Regions from separate parts of the Homo sapiens genome. Here regions 1 and 2 are each linked to region 3. Evidence: fine-mapped expression QTL. A gene starts in region 3. Each other region holds a variant in brackets. All regions are shown on one strand. Distances are from middle to middle.

The links. PIP is the estimated chance that this variant, and not a neighbour inherited with it, causes the effect.
Region 1: its variant is fine-mapped to the expression of TNK2 in thyroid (GTEx, PIP above 0.99). The same link has a PIP of 0.9 or more in adrenal gland, blood mononuclear cells, cerebellum, lung, naive CD4 T cells and pituitary.
Region 2: its variant is fine-mapped to the expression of TNK2 in nasal epithelium (TOPMed, PIP 0.99).

What each region holds. Positions count from the first base shown.
Region 1 is chr3:195,867,507-195,872,506 of GRCh38, reverse strand. TNK2 (tyrosine kinase non receptor 2) reads left to right here. Exons shown (of 16, transcript NM_001382273.1): 10 at 37-231; 11 at 2,302-2,393; 12 at 2,966-3,010; 13 at 3,798-5,000. Among named protein-coding and RNA genes, the nearest start is that of LINC01983, 9.6 kb to the right of the region's middle. The variant A/G (reference allele first, on the strand shown) is at 2,471.
Region 2 is chr3:195,873,973-195,878,972 of GRCh38, reverse strand. TNK2 (tyrosine kinase non receptor 2) reads left to right here. Exons shown (of 16, transcript NM_001382273.1): 8 at 381-527; 9 at 626-720. Among named protein-coding and RNA genes, the nearest start is that of MIR6829, 5.9 kb to the left of the region's middle. RefSeq lists an enhancer at 891-1,445. The variant A/C (reference allele first, on the strand shown) is at 2,192.
Region 3 is chr3:195,906,182-195,911,497 of GRCh38, reverse strand. It overlaps TNK2 (tyrosine kinase non receptor 2), which reads left to right and starts at 2,947. Exons shown (of 16, transcript NM_001382273.1): 1 at 2,947-3,013. It overlaps TNK2-AS1 (TNK2 antisense RNA 1), which reads right to left and starts at 3,422. Exons shown (of 2, transcript NR_145450.1): 1 at 2,720-3,422; 2 at 1-1,633. RefSeq lists enhancers at 1,364-1,413, 4,404-4,633, 4,684-4,733 and silencers at 1,544-2,193, 2,244-2,433, 2,484-2,733.

The DNA of each region.
Region 1 (5,000 bases), 39 kb after region 3:
ACGCCTGGCGTTCACCGTGCCATCTCTGTCGCGCAGGGCCGAGAACTACTGGTGGCGTGGCCAGAACACACGGACGCTGTGTGTGGGGCCCTTCCCTCGCAACGTGGTGACCTCCGTGGCCGGCCTGTCGGCCCAGGACATCAGCCAGCCCCTGCAGAACAGCTTCATCCACACAGGGCATGGCGACAGTGACCCCCGCCACTGCTGGGGCTTCCCGGACAGGATTGACGAGTGAGTACTGGGCGGGGATGGATGCTGACCTGGCCCCGCTCGGGACTCCAGGGCCCTCAGCACGGCACGCGTGGGCGGAATCTGCTCTTCACCCTTTCGCCCGGGCTTCAGCCCCCGACCCGCCACTCTCCCCTCCTCACCCTGGCCTTACTCTCGGGAAGCTGTGGAACCCTAGGAAGCCCAGCCTGGTGGGGGTTCTCCAGGGGAATGTTCTCCAGGGGAGTGTTCTCCAGGGGAGGGTTCTCCAGGGGAGGGTTCTCCAGGGGAATGTTCTCCAGGGGAGGGTTCTCCAGGGGAGGGTTCTCCAGGGGAGGGTTCTCCAGGGGAATGTTCTCCAGGGGAGGGTTCTCCAGGGGAGGGTTCTCCGGGGAGCGTTCTCCAGGGGAATGCTGTCCCTGCCATTTTCAAGCTTTGGGGGGCCGATCTCCTAACTCTGAGACACTTCATCTGTGAAACAGGTTCACCCCCCCAATAAGGGGAAGGCTGTAAATGCACTCTGAATTAGCACTTGCTGCTCAGATGCAGGGGTCCTGAGAGAAGCTTTCCCACTCACTGTAGATGAAAGTAGGGTCAGGAGCTTCTGAGGATGGACTCCTGTTTGGTGGAAAGGTCCCCGGAGCCACAGCTGTAACCCCTCTTGGTACTCGGGCCTTAGGAAAATGAACTTGGGAGGAACCCGGTGGGAGCTGCTGAGGAGGAGAGCTTCTCCCATGACCCCCCTGTGGCCCCCTGTGACCCTGTGACCCTGTGACCCCTGCACACGAGCAGTGGTTTTCCTTCTCCTGCTGGTGGTGCCAGAGTCCTGGAGACGTGAACCTGCTGGCTCAGGCCCTGGGGATGTATGCAGGTCCACATGGGAGTGAGCCTGCTTTCCAGAACCAGAGTGGGACTGGGGACCTTGGGGACTGCAGAGGGAACGTTAGGTGGCAGCTCCGCCTCCCCACCACACAGTACTCTACGGAGCTCACTCCATACCTGGGAGAGGCCCTGTCTCCTATGTAAGAGGATAAGGCCACCGAGGGGCATCTGGGAAGGACACGCAGAATCAGTCACTTCCGGGATGCCACCCCCCACCCCCCGAAGCTTCTTGCGCCAGGCCTCCAAGCCTCTCTGCTGGCCGCAGGGGGATTCCAGGCCCCTGGCCTCTGCAGCCCTTCTCCTGCTGACTTCTGATACTCTGGTCTGCCCTGAGAGGCGTGGAAAGCAGGGGCCTTCACCCACCGGGCCCCACACACCAGAACCCCACACAGCGGGCCCCCACACACCAGAACCCACACAGCGGGCCCCCACACACCAGAACCCCACACAGCGAGTCCCCCCACACCAGAACCCACACAGCGGGCCCCCACACACCAGAACCCACACAGCGGGCCCACACACACTGGAACCCCAAGCTCACAGGGCTCAGCCCATGTGTTTTGCCTAAAAAGAACCCAGCAAGGGCCTGAGAGTTGGGGTGAAAGACTGCAGACACCTCCAGGAGAGGCTGGTGCCCTCTGCCCCACTCCTGGCATGCTGTGGCCAGCCCAGCCCCATTCCTCCAGGCTTTAATCAGCCCCAGTGACTAAGTCTCAGATACTGACAGTTGGTGCAGGGACGGAGGGTGGATCCGGAGCAGGACAGGTGGCCCAGCCTCTCCCGCACCTCCTGGCCATGTGGCAGAAGGGTGCCTCCTGCCCACCCTGGCTGGGCACCATAGCTGGGATGCCCCGTTCTTAGGCCCTCCATCGTGGCCTGCGGGACAGGAGTGTCTGCCCTCTGGCCGCTGCCTGGTGTGGGCTGGGGGCCTGGGGGGTTGTGGAGGACCACCTCTGCCCTTGTAGGGTGTAGTTGGAGTCCCTGAGGTCCTAGGCTTTCCATCCTGGGGTCAGGTGTCCTTTCTCTGCCTTCTCTCCAGGACACCCCCCAGCTGAGACGTGCGGTCAGGTTCTGTGGACTGGGAGGCGGGAGGCCTGTGCTTCAGACCCAAGACTACACCCGGTTTCCTCCAGGACGAAGGGGCTCTGATGAGATTCTGCCACCCCTCCACACGCTTCCCCTGCTCTCTTGACCCAGCTCTCTCCCCCACAGACTGTATCTGGGAAACCCCATGGACCCCCCCGACCTCCTGAGCGTGGAACTGAGCACCTCCCGGCCCCCCCAGCATCTAGGAGGGGTGAAAAGTAAGAGCCCCTCTGCTCCCTGGTGTCCCTAACTCATCGGCTACTCAGGAAGGGGCACTGTCTTCACAGGCCACCCT[A/G]AGGCTGCTGTTCTGTTTTTGGGGACAGTGGGGTCAGGGCAGCAGGCGGGACAGCTGTGTCCCTGGCTCCGGCTGGGCGTGGGGTGGAAGACAGGCAGCTGTATCCGCCGAGGTGGGCCTCCTCGGGCTGGGTCTGCAGCAGGCCCGTCCGCCCCGGCGTCCCTCCTCCCTCCTTCCACGGCCGAGCTCAGATCCTGGCTTTCCTCACTTCCCCCTAATCCTGCTCTCCTGTCCCAAGCCAAAACCACCCCACGGCTCCGGCTCTGCCTGGGGCCTCCTCCATCTCCCGGTCCTCTGCCTATCATACTGGACCGCCGTGTTCCTCATCCTGCCGCCTGCGGCCTCCCGTTTGCTGGGGGCTTGTACATTCACTCGCCCCCATTCACTTCTCTCCCTTCGTCTCTCTACACTCTGCCCTCTCGTCCGGCCGTCTCCCTCCTTTGTCCTCTGTCCTGCTCCGTCTCTCTCCCCCTGTCCGCATGGCCTTTCTTGCAGGGGAGCCTCCACCTCGCCCACCTCAGCCTGCCTTCTTCACTCAGAGTAAGTGGGGCTGCTTCCGATGCCTTGGCCCCCGCCCCCGCCCCCTCTCTCTCACTCCTCTCCTGGAAGGTACAGAGCCTGGGCGGCTGGGCCGGAGGGGAGGTGGGTGGGTGTGTGCTGTGAGCTTCCGCGGCTGCCCTGGCCTAGCATGCCTGCCCCCCCTCGAGCCCGCCCCCCGGAGCCTGGGCTTCTGCTCACGAGTGTGGCCCTGGCTTCCGCCTCGGCCTCACTCCCTCCCAGACCTGTCTGAGCTTCTGGAGCACGAGTGTGGCCCTGGCTTCTGCCTTGGCCTCGCTGCCTCCCAGACCTGCAGGCGCTGTCTGGGCTTTGTGGCCGTTGGTCAGGAGTACTGTCCTCTCCAAGGATAGTCCTTATAGCCCCTGATGGCAGGAGGCGGCTCCGTGCCTGCACTAATGGTGTGCCGTGACAGGGGCGGGGATGAGGGCTCACTAACTCGCCAGGGCGCAGGAGCAGGGCCGCCGGGGTCTTGTGCTGGTGGAGGCAGCGTCAGGCAGGAGCCAGTGTTGCTTGCTGCAGCTTAGACGGAGCGAGGCGGGGCTCACCGGCCCACATGGGGCTGCCGGGCAGAGCAGGTTCCGCCCTCCTGATGGAGTGGTCGGAGGTGCGCTGAGAACCTGGCCGCCGGTGGCTGACCTCAGACCTCGGGGGGAGTTGGGAGTGGAGGGTTGCTGGGGGACACTTGGCTTTCTCTCCCACGTGCCACCTCCCCTCGTGTCCCAGACCCTGCCTGACTGCCTTCCTGTTGGGCTCTCCCTTTCCATCACAGAACCAACCTATGACCCTGTGAGCGAGGACCAAGACCCCTTGTCCAGCGACTTCAAGAGGCTGGGCCTGCGGAAGCCAGGCCTGCCCCGAGGGCTGTGGCTGGCGAAGCCCTCGGCGCGGGTGCCGGGCACCAAGGCCAGCCGAGGCAGCGGGGCTGAGGTCACGCTCATCGACTTCGGTGAGGAGCCCGTGGTCCCGGCCCTACGGCCCTGCGCGCCCTCCCTGGCGCAGCTGGCCATGGACGCCTGCTCCCTGCTGGACGAGACCCCGCCTCAGAGCCCCACGCGGGCACTGCCCCGGCCCCTGCACCCCACGCCTGTGGTGGACTGGGACGCACGCCCGCTGCCCCCCCCGCCCGCCTATGACGACGTGGCCCAGGATGAGGATGACTTTGAGATCTGCTCCATCAACAGCACCCTCGTGGGCGCGGGGGTCCCTGCCGGGCCCAGCCAGGGCCAGACCAACTACGCCTTTGTGCCTGAGCAGGCGCGGCCGCCCCCTCCCCTGGAGGACAACCTGTTCCTCCCGCCCCAGGGTGGGGGCAAGCCGCCCAGCTCCGCACAGACCGCAGAGATCTTCCAGGCGCTACAGCAGGAGTGCATGAGGCAACTGCAGGCTCCGGCCGGCTCCCCGGCCCCCTCTCCCAGCCCGGGGGGTGACGACAAGCCCCAGGTGCCTCCTCGGGTACCCATCCCCCCTCGGCCCACGCGCCCACACGTCCAGCTGTCTCCAGCCCCCCCGGGCGAGGAGGAGACCAGCCAGTGGCCTGGACCTGCTTCCCCTCCCCGGGTGCCTCCGCGGGAGCCCCTGTCCCCTCAAGGCTCGAGGACACCCAGCCCCCTGGTACCACCTGGCAGCTCCCCGCTGCCACCCCGGCTCTCAAGCTCACCTGGGAAGACCATGCCCACCACCCAGAGCTTTGCCTCAGACCCCAAGTACGCCACCCCCCAGGTGATCCAGGCCCCTGGCCCGCGGGCTGGTCCCTGCATCCTGCCCATCGTCCGGGATGGCAAGAAGGTCAGCAGCACCCACTATTACTTGCTGCCCGAGCGACCATCCTACCTGGAGCGCTACCAGCGCTTCCTGCGTGAGGCCCAGAGCCCCGAGGAGCCTACCCCCCTGCCTGTGCCTCTGCTGCTGCCCCCACCCAGCACCCCAGCCCCCGCCGCCCCCACGGCCACCGTGCGGCCGATGCCCCAGGCTG
Region 2 (5,000 bases), 32 kb after region 3:
AACTGCCTCTCACCAATGGACTCCCTCCTCCCACGCCCCGTGCCTCCCCCCACTTCCCGTGCCTCCCACCACGCCCCGTGTCTCCTCTCACGCCCCGTATCTGTATGGCCTCAGGGAGAGCCCAGCAAAGAGACGGGGAGGGAAAAGCTGGGGCCTGCCCTCCTTCTCTAGCCCTTGCCACATCCACTTGTTCCGAGGCTCCAGACCTGGGAAGAAGGGACTGGGGCTCTGGAGAGGGCCCCTCCCAGGCAGGCAGATCCCTTCTTTGGAGGCCAGGCATGGCAGCAGCCGCTGCAGCTGTGGATGGGCTGGAGGGAAGGCGGGAAGTGAAGGGCTGGGCGCTCTGTTTGTCGTCAAACTCTGCACCTCCTCACCTTCAGATCCTGCATAAGATCGACAAGGAGGGGGAGCGGCTGCCCCGGCCCGAGGACTGTCCCCAGGACATCTACAACGTCATGGTCCAGTGCTGGGCTCACAAGCCAGAGGACAGACCCACGTTTGTGGCCCTGCGGGACTTCCTGCTGGAGGTGAGGGACAGGTCAGCCCAGGAGAGCTGGGGTGTTCAAGCTGAGGGGCTACCCAGGCGTCAGTCCCAGAGTTGGCCACGACCTTCCTCTTCCTCCAGGCCCAGCCCACAGACATGCGGGCCCTTCAGGACTTTGAGGAACCGGACAAGCTGCACATCCAGATGAATGATGTCATCACCGTCATCGAGGGAAGGTAGGGAGTGCAGGGCTGGGCCCCGCCCTGGGATCGCTTGAAGGGCACAGGTCGGAGGGACCTGTGGACAGATCTGTTTGGCCTCCAAGATTCCCTTGGCCACATACAGGCTGGCGGTTGGGCCTGAACCCTGCAGTGTGAGGGGAGGACAGGCCTGCCTCCGTCTTCCTAGTGCCTTTCCCTGCCCAGCTTCCCTCCACCACCCTTTCCCACTGGGCTGCAGCCCTGGCTGTGTGGTTGGGCCAGGCTGCCTTTATGGAGGGGTAGGGAGTGGCCTGGCCTCGGTGGCAGCAGAGTTCTGGACTCCCGTGCTTCCTCCTCTGCTCCTCCCCGCTTCTCTCCCTGCTTCTTCCTGGCACAGGGACTCAGCCATCCACCTGGGTGCGTTTCAGTAGCTGAAGCAGCCCAGCCTGCCCTCTTGCAGCTTTCCATCCTTCCTGCTGAGCCCACCACCCCCTCCCAGGCCTGCCTCCAGCCTCTGGTCCTCTCTTCCCATCTCCCCTTGGGAGGACCCTCTCTATACCTAACCCTCCTCCCACAGCCTCTCGGGAGTCCCTGTCTTCCACCTGAGCCCCCGCAGTTCTAGCGCCTGCCCTGAGGCCCCACCACTGCTGGCCCTGCCTTGTGCTGGCTGATCCCCAGGGTGTCTGAGCAACTGGCTGGGGCAGGGCAGGTTTCAGGTACCTTTGAGGCAGGGGCAGTATTGAGGACCAGGAAGAAGAGTGAAGTGGAGGAAATCCCCTGTGCTCGCAGCTCCTGACTCAGGCCAGGCAAGGATGGGGCTAGGGCTGCTTCCCAGGGAGCCTCTTCCACCTGCACTGCAGCTTTTGGAGTCTGCGGCCTTCGGTGCAATCCTGTGCCTCTTGGGGGTGGGTGGAGGAGACCTGGGGGGCTGTGTGGAGTGTGACCTGCACCGCTGTGGCCCCGACACCCCGAGCCTTCCCAGGCCCGGCTCCCTCACCCTTGGGCCCAGGGTCTGGGAATAGGAATGACATACTGAGACTGCAGGGCCTGTGGTTAGGGGTGTTATGCTGGGGAAGAATGCAGAAGGTTCTAGAAAGAGAGGCCTGGGGACAGGAGGCAAACAGTCTGCAGGTTTGGAGCTGAGGGGCCAGGGATGGGATTGCAAGCGTGGCGCTCCGGGGAGCATTCTGGAAATAGGAAGATTAAGGGTGGGGGGGTCCCCTGGAAGTACCTGGCAGGGCCTCCAGCCCGAAGTCCAGCCTCATGACCGTGTCCACCTCCACGAGCTGGAAAGCCGTGGGCCTGGCCCCTCTTGTGCTGCTGCCGGAGCCCCAGATCTTTACCACCTGCTTCCCTTGCTCTCAGCAGGAGCCTGTGTGCCTGCCAGTGTCCCCAGGGGTGACTCAGAGTGGCCTGTGTTTGGGGCGTGTGTCTCTGGAGCTGGTGTTTTAGGTCACCGCCCGGGCAAGGCGGGCAGTGGGAGGGGCCGGGAGCGGCTGCTCCTGGG[A/C]GGGTTGTGGGTGTGCCCCGCCCCGCCCTTCCGTCGAAGGCCCCCGTTGGCCCCAGCCGCTGGTTCCCTGTGGCTGCTGCTGGTGGGGCTCTGGGGGCTCCTTCCCCCTGGGCCACCAGCCCTGGCTTGGAACCACAGCACCTGCCCTCCGTGCCTGGAGCTGCTCAGGAGGTGGGAGGTGAGGGGCAGGAGGCCACAACAGCCGGTGAGGCTTGGGAGCGGGCCTGGGTGTCGGTGGTGGCAGAGCTTGACTCTGCCCCCTTGTTTCTTCAGTCCCTGAATATCTCCATGTTTGTTTGGCTGCCTCCGTCTCCATGTCTCCAGGCGGATGGCTCTGTGTGAGTCTTTGGGCCTGGGTGTGCATCTGTGGGTCTGTGTTTGGAGTTCCCTCCTAGCCTGGCCTTCTCTTCGCCGTGGCTTCCCACTTGCGAAGCTGTGTCCAGTATTTGTTTCCTGGTGCGGAGTCTGGGAGGCCACCTGCCGCAGCTCTGACTGAGTCTAGGCTCAGTCCTTCTCAGGGTACCAGGCTGTGGGCAGAGGGGAGACACCTAGATGTTTCGTGCTGTGTCTAGATTTGGAGACACAAATGATGACTGGTCTTTCCCAGGGGCTCGTTTGGAGGAAGGGGTGGCTGGCAGCACTTTTGTTCCGCATACAGAGCGGGTGTTGGAATCCATTGCGGGTCCTTGGCCTGGTCTGGCCCTGGAGCCTCGGCTTCCTGTGGTGGGTGGGAGCCAGGCATCCGGGTTATCCCTCCAGGCCTGGGCGCCTGGGACCCCTAGGGAGAAGAGCGGGCGGGCGTTTTGAACAGAATGTCCGGCATTAGTTGAGCCATTTCTGGACTACCTTCGGCCCGGACGGGAACGTGGTGCTGAGATTTCCAGAGCTGGGGCAGCCTTAGGCAGTTCTCAGCACCGGCCTCTGTTTTCCATCTTGTCTACCCCAGAGATGTTGACCAGAGGCCCGGGGGCAGCAGGAGGTAGAAGGTTCATGCGGAGGTGTTGGGCCCTTTTCCTGCTCCCCCAGGAAGTCCTCATCCGCCCCTGCTTCAGTCACGGCCGGGTAGCAGCCCTGGCCCTCCCATGGCCACGGGGACTCCGGCCTGTTCATGGCGGGAGAGAGAGGGCGCGGACAGGGCGGGCCTGGAAGGAAGGGCTGGCCTCAGTCCCCTCTGGACTGCTGGTGCCTCGGCCACACTGAGCCTCACACGGGTGCGTGTGGGCTGCGAGAAGTGACACGGTCCTCTTGGAAGTCCCACTGGAGCCTTGGGATGAAGCTGCCTTGGAGTGTGCGTGGGCGCCATCCCGAGGGGGAGCTTCCTGTGCCTCCGAGCGTGCGTGGGCGCCATCCCGAGGGGGAGCTTCTTGTGCCTCGGAGCGTGCGTGGGCGCCATCCCGAGGGGGAGTTTCTTGTGCCTCGGAGCGTGCGTGGGCGCCATCCCGAGGGGGAGTTTCTTGTGCCTCGGAGCGTGCGTGGGCGCCATCCCGAGGGGAGCTTCGTGTGCCTCGGAGCGTGCGTGGGCGCCATCCCGAGGGGAGCTTCCTGTGCCTCGGAGCGTGCGTGGGCGCCATCCCGAGGGGGAGTTTCTTGTGCCTCGGAGCGTGCGTGGGCGCCATCCCGAGGGGAGCTTCTTGTGCCTCGGAGTGTGCGTGGGCGCCATCCCGAGGGGAGCTTCTTGTGCCTCGGAGTGTGCGTGGGCGCCATCCCGAGGGGGAGCTTCCTGTGCCTCCGAGCGTGCGTGGGCGCCATCCCGAGGGGGAGTTTCTTGTGCCTCGGAGCGTGCGTGGGCGCCATCCCGAGGGGAGCTTCTTGTGCCTCGGAGTGTGCGTGGGCGCCATCCCGAGGGGAGCTTCTTGTGCCTCGGAGCGTGCGTGGGCGCCATCCCGAGGGGGAGTTTCTTGTGCCTCGGAGCGTGCGTGGGCGCCATCCCGAGGGGAGCTTCTTGTGCCTCGGAGTGTGCGTGGGCGCCATCCCGAGGGGAGCTTCCTGTGCCTCGGAGCGTGCGTGGGCGCCATCCCGAGGGGAGCTTCCTGTGCCTCGGAGCGTGCGTGGGCGCCATCCCGAGGGAGAGTTTCTTGTGCCTCGGAGCGTGCGTGGGCGCCATCCCGAGGGGAGCTTCTTGTGCCTCGGAGTGTGCGTGGGCGCCATCCCGAGGGGAGCTTCTTGTGCCTCGGAGTGTGCGTGGGCGCCATCCCGAGGGGGAGCTTCTTGTGCCTCGGAGCGTGCGTGGGCGCCATCCCGAGGGGGAGTTTCTTGTGCCTCGGAGTGTGCGTGGGCGCCATCCCGAGGGGAGCTTCTTGCACACGTCCTCCGCACTCTTACTCTCCTTCCCCCAGGAGCAAGCATGTTTTCTCGAGTGGTGTCAGGACTCCCAGCAGCCATGGGGGCTCTTGCCTCGGCCATACCTGCACTAAGGGAGGTGGGCTTGATGTCTCCTTTCCCTCTCAGAAGTGGGTCCCAAAGGAGGCTTCTGTGCCTGGAGCTGGGCAGTGTTGGCGGAAGGGAGAGGCCAGACGGAGTGACCTGCCTTGGGCACGAGTCACGCTGCTCTGAGCAAGGTCTCGGCCTCAGCGGCATTCTCACCCAGTTACTGAGCGCCTCTGAAGAGGTGTGGAGAGCAGAGTCCGGCGTCTGGCCCGCGGCAGCCACCGGGGAGCCCGTGGGTGTAGCGGGAGAGCCGCAGCCCAGCCGGTGCCGGGGTTCCTCCTCTACGGGCCGCCGTGGGAGGCTGTGTGCGTGCTGGGGAGCCGGGGCTCTGCTCCTTCGAGTGGCCCTGCTATTTTTCAGATGGGACTCGTCTCGTCTCGGG
Region 3 (5,316 bases):
GTCCTGATGCTTCCTGAAGCAGGGCCCCTGGATTTGGCGTTGCTTTTTTGTGCCTCAGATTTTTTTTTTTTTTGAGGCAAGGTCTGGCTCTATTGCCCAGGCAGGAGTGCAGTGGTGTGGTCTCTACTCAGTGCAACCTCCACCTCCCAGGCTCAAGCGATCCTCCCCCCTCGGCCTCCCGAGTAGCTGGGATTACAGGTGCGTGCCACCATGCTCTGCTAATTTTTCTATTTTTTTTGTAGAGACAGGGTTTTGCCGTGTTGCCCAGGCTGGTCCTGAACTTGGGAGCTCAAATGATTTGCCCTCCTCAGCCTCCAAAGTGCTGTGATTACAGGCATGAGTCACCACACTCGGTCTGTGCCTTAGACTTTAGAGTCGGAAAGCTGGATTTGAATCCTGGCTTCACTACTACCAGCTGTATGGCACTGAACAAGTCACTTGGCCATGTAGAACCTCAGTTCTGCCACGTGTAAAATGGGGATATTATGTGTCTCCTTGGGTTGTCATGGGGTTGGATGAGAAGAATGCGAAGTGCAGGGCCTTGCACAGTTGGGCTCTGTGAGTCTTAGCAATGGCCATGACTGAGGCAGCGTGAGGGAGACTGGGAGAAAACCTCCTCAGTTTCCTTCTCCCAAATCTGTTGTCTTCCCCACTTTCTTTCCTGAAGCCAGGCGACAGGGGGGTGGTCCTGGCCCAGCCTCCTGGCTCCCTGGGGAAGGGCTGCCATTACTGGCAGTGTTAGATAATTTAGTAGAAAGTTGCCCTGCCCACCTCGCAGGCAAGGGACCGCCACCCAAATCCACCCAGACTGGGCCTCGTGTAGGTTTCCAGAAGCCACCCCTTTCTCATTGCCCTACTGCGCTCTGGCCAAGTCCCTGGGGCCCATTGCTGGACAGTGTGAGCGCAGAAAGAGCCAGCCCTACACAGTTTCCGATGTGTCTGATCTTGCCACCTACCGTGAACTGTTTTGTTATTACATCCATTTTCTAGATGAGGGACAGTAACAAGGGCTGAGTGGCCCTGAGCCCTTGGGCTCCACGCGCCCGCTGCCCAGGGCTGCCTCCGTTTGGGCTGGGACATGGGTCTGTGGGCTGGGAACAGGGCCTGCAGGCTGCCCCGCCGCTGGGAATCCGAGCGCTGGGTTTTCTCCTTCTGGGGTGGGGGCAGGGAGGAGACGGCTCAAGTGCAGGAATGAAGGTCCGCTTGCCTGGGGCTGTTTCTGCCCAAGTCCTCATCAGGAATCGTCAGGCCTGAGACAAACCCTCCCTCCTTCAGGAGTGCTCCGTTGGCCCCGGGGAAAGAGAGGTGATGGTCCGGGTTTCTGGGCCTTTGGGGTGCCACGGTGAGATTGGGACTAGAACCCCAGCCTCACTGGAGTGACCCCAGAAACCTTCCAGTCCAACCTCCTCACTTCAACTGAGGTTGGAACAACTGAGACCGGGTGGAAGTGACTTTTACACTCGCACAGTGCAACGGTAGCTACTCGGAATGAGAGACCTGTTCCGGCGCTCCTCCATTGCGCCCCTCGACTCGGCGGGACTTCTTCACCCAGGGCGCCACCGCTCCTCGGCACCGCAGGAAGGCGCAGGCCGGGCCCGGGGGAGTCGGGGAGAGCGGGGTAGGGCCCCGGAGGCTGGGGGAGGAGCCGGGGGAGGAGCGATGAGGCCGGGCCCTTTAAGAGGGCGGGCCGACTCCCCCCCACCCCCCACCCCGGGGCGGCGCAGGCGCAGGCGCAGGCGGGCTCGGGGCGCTCGGCAGGAGGGACGGCGGGCGGGCGCTCACCTGCGGGGGCCGGCGCGGGGCGGGCGCCCGGCGGGCCGACGTTGACGCCCGGAGGCGAGGGCGGGGAGGCGGGCGCGGGACTCGGGGGCGGCCCGGGGCGGGAGGGGAGGGCCGGGGCGGGCGGGCGGTGTGAGCGGGCGCCGAGGGCAGCACCATCTGGAGGGGTGGGAGCGCGCGGCCTCTGGGGGGCAAGCGAGTGCGCTGGGCCGAGCCGGTCGGGGGCCCCCGGCGGGTCGCGCAGGAGGAGCGCGGCGGGCTGAGCCCTGCGCTGCCGGAGCAGCAGCCGCAGCGCGTAGGGGTTCTCAGCTGGGGCCCGCAGCAGCTCCGCGGGCTGAAGCTCGGCGTGGAGGAGCGGGGCGGGGTGGGCCCGGCGGTGCAGGAGGAGGGCGGGGTGGGCCCGGGGCTGCAGGAGCGCGGCGGCCGCGGCCACGAGCCCAGCCGGGGGGTGGTGTGGGGGCCGCCGGACGGCGCGGGCTGGGGGCGCCCGCCGTGGTGGACGGGCTCGGCGGGCTGGCCTGTGGCGCAGGAGGAGGGGCTGGGGCCCCGCGGGCAGCACCAGGAGAAGGGCGGAGGCAGCCCCGCAGTGCAGGAGCGCGGCGAGGCCCGGGCCGGGGTGCAGGAGCGCGGGGAGGGGAGCCCGCGGAGGCTGCTGCAGCAGCCCGAACCGGCGTCCGAGTCCGGGGAAGGCCCCCGCGAGCGCAGGGAGGGGCCGGAAAGTTCCGGCGAACTGGGGGAGCGGCAGTGGGAGAGCGTCGGGCGGGAGGCGGTGGTCCTGGGAGCGGCCCCGGCGCCCCGAAGCCGCCCCGAGCTGGTGGGGAGGGCCCGGCCGGTGGGGCCCCGGGGGCCTGCGGGGGAGGGGCGCCTGGGGGTGCAAGAGGCGAATTGGCTGCCCGGGGTGCAGGAGGGACAGGTGGTGCGGGCTGTCCAGGAAACCTACCTGAACGGGAAGGAGCCCCAGGAGGGAGAGGGACCCGGCGAGGGGCTCAGGACCCGGAGGCGCCGGCGGAGGAGGAGGTGGTGACTGGCAGGCCCGGGCCCCACGGTACCTCCGGGGCTGAAGGGGACGCAGGATGTAGGGGCATGGGGAGTCGGGCGCAGAAGAGTGCGGGGAACCGCTGAGCTCTGGGAGCCACTGCCTGAGGGCAGGCCGCGGCCGGCGGGAACCTCTTCTGCCGTCTCAGCCTGGGCGTCGCTGAAGCTGTGTCTGCGGGGAGGCAGCGGAAGGCGGCAGGTAAGGAAGCCCAGTCCTGTTAGCTGGAGTTGGTGTGCTTGGAAGTGAGAGGCTGCAGGTCCCTGGCGAGAGCGTAGACTCCACACTGCCCTCGTTCTTTTGGCCTTTCATCCCTGGAGGGAGGAAGCAGTGCAGTTTTCAGCGGCAAGGCAGGACCTCTCCCCCGCCAGTACTGTGTATGGTAATTGGAGTGATAGGGCATCTTCTTAGAGTCTAGGCAGCAGGCGGGACGTCTGGGTGGCTGCCAGGTCTGTGCAGAGGGAAGAGAGGGGTAGCCCCAGGGAGGAGCTGCAGGACGGTCCCCCCTCCACCTGCCCCCCGATGGCAGTAGGGGTGCCTCCATGCTATATGCTCTGCATGGTGCAGTCAACACACAAGTCCTCAAAACACGTCCCACAGAAGGGAAGAGGGCAGCGTGGGATTAACAGAACCTTATCTTGTAACCCTGTTGGTCACGTGAGCTGAGATGAGTGTGACAGCTAGTGGCTTGGGTACGGCACGAGCCTGGCCCGCTTCTGCCACGCCGTCCTGTCACAGCTGATTTACCCTGAGGGCCCAGAGCCAAGGATGATTAGTGGGCGGAAGGAGGGAGAGCAACTGGTGAGCCCTCTCGTCTCTGGGTGGGACGACCCAGCGTTAGAGGGGCGGGAGAGGAGGGTGCACTTGCACCCCAGGGCTCTGGGCTGCCTCTGTGGCCCCACCCTGGGGAGGTTTGCAGATGGGCCGCTGTGGTATCATGGGCTCTGCACCTGTCAGGACAGGAGCTCCCAGCCCAGTCTAGAGGTAGGGCTTGTAGGGGCCAAGGGTGGGGGCTGTATTTGGCTTGTTGACTCCCTCGTGGCCTGAGTGCCAGACCTACTCATTCCGCCTCGTGCCCCCAGGGGGCTTGGCGGGCTGCTTGTGGGCCTTACTCTCCTAGAGCTGTTCGCCTCTTACCTGGCACTGTCAGGTGCTTGCTTCCCCTGCCCCTGGGTGGGGATGGGTGCAGGGTTGCTGCTTGCCCAGGGCCTTAGCTAGAGGACCCTCCTCTGCCCCAGCCCGAGGTGTGGCTGTGAGTCAGATGGACCCAGACCCCTGTCCCGAACCAGACTGGGTGCTCTCCTCTGGGGGCAGAGGGAGTGGTGCTGGAGGTAGCAGCTGCTGGAGGAGCCGGTTAGCCCGCTCCTCAGACAAACTCAAACCCGCCTGTCAGCTTCATCCCATGCCTGTCGCGCTGCCACCCAAACACTCATGCACCGGAAGTTCAGCTGCTGTGCCCACGGTGCCTGACGCTTCTGGAATGGCCAGAGTGGCTCTCACTGTCTGGCTTCAGTGGAGAGAACGGTCTGTTTTAAACACATACACACAATCTTCACCTACTTATTTCAGGTCGGCGTTTTTGAACTTGTGGTAGATGAATGGGAGAAAGGCCTTGGCATCACACAGATTGCTTTTGATCTGGTTATATCGCTTACAAGCTGTGTAACTTCCTTGGGCAACATAATGTCTTTAGGTTTCAGTTTCTTGGTGTCTGCGGTGGGCCAGGACTTCCCCTGCAGTGTCGTGAGTAAAGAAACCTCAGGCCCTTTGGAGCCTGGTGCCCACCTCCCCGGAGCCCCGGCAGATGTTAGGGAGGAAGGGTCAGACTGTTCCCTCTGGCCCCTGAGCCCGGGATTAGCCCCCACCTTGTGCTTCGTCTAGAAGATGCAGTGTTTCTTTTTGTTTGTTTTAAATAACAGTTTTATTGAGATATAATGACATATGGTAAACTGAGCATATTTAAAACACACAATTTAATAAGTTGTGGCCTGTGTATATACCCGTGAAACCACCCCCACCTTCAAGATAGTGAACATCCCCCTTATTCCCCTGTCCCCAGAAGTTTTCTTGTGGAACCCCTCCATCCCCCGCTCCTCTGCCATCCCCTACCCCAGGTAACAGGCTGGTCTACTTTCTGTCACTGTGTCTGAGTTTGCAGCATTTACTGTAAACGGAATCGCGTCTTTCATTCAACAGAAGTATTTTGGAGTTTGTCCAGGTGGTTGCGCGTATCAACAGTCATTGTACACGTGTGCCAAAGTCTGTTTATCCATTGACCTGTTGATGGGTTTTCAGAGAAAGCTGCTGTGAACGTGTTTGTTAGTCTTTGTGTGGATGTACACTTTTATTTATCTTAGGTAAATCCCTAGGACCGGAATGGCTGGGTCATGTGGTAGGTACACATTTAACCTTTAAGAAACTGCCAGACTGTTTTCCAAAGTGGTTGTACATTTTATATACTCATCCACTGTGTATGAGAGTTCTGGTTTGTCCATGTCTTTGAT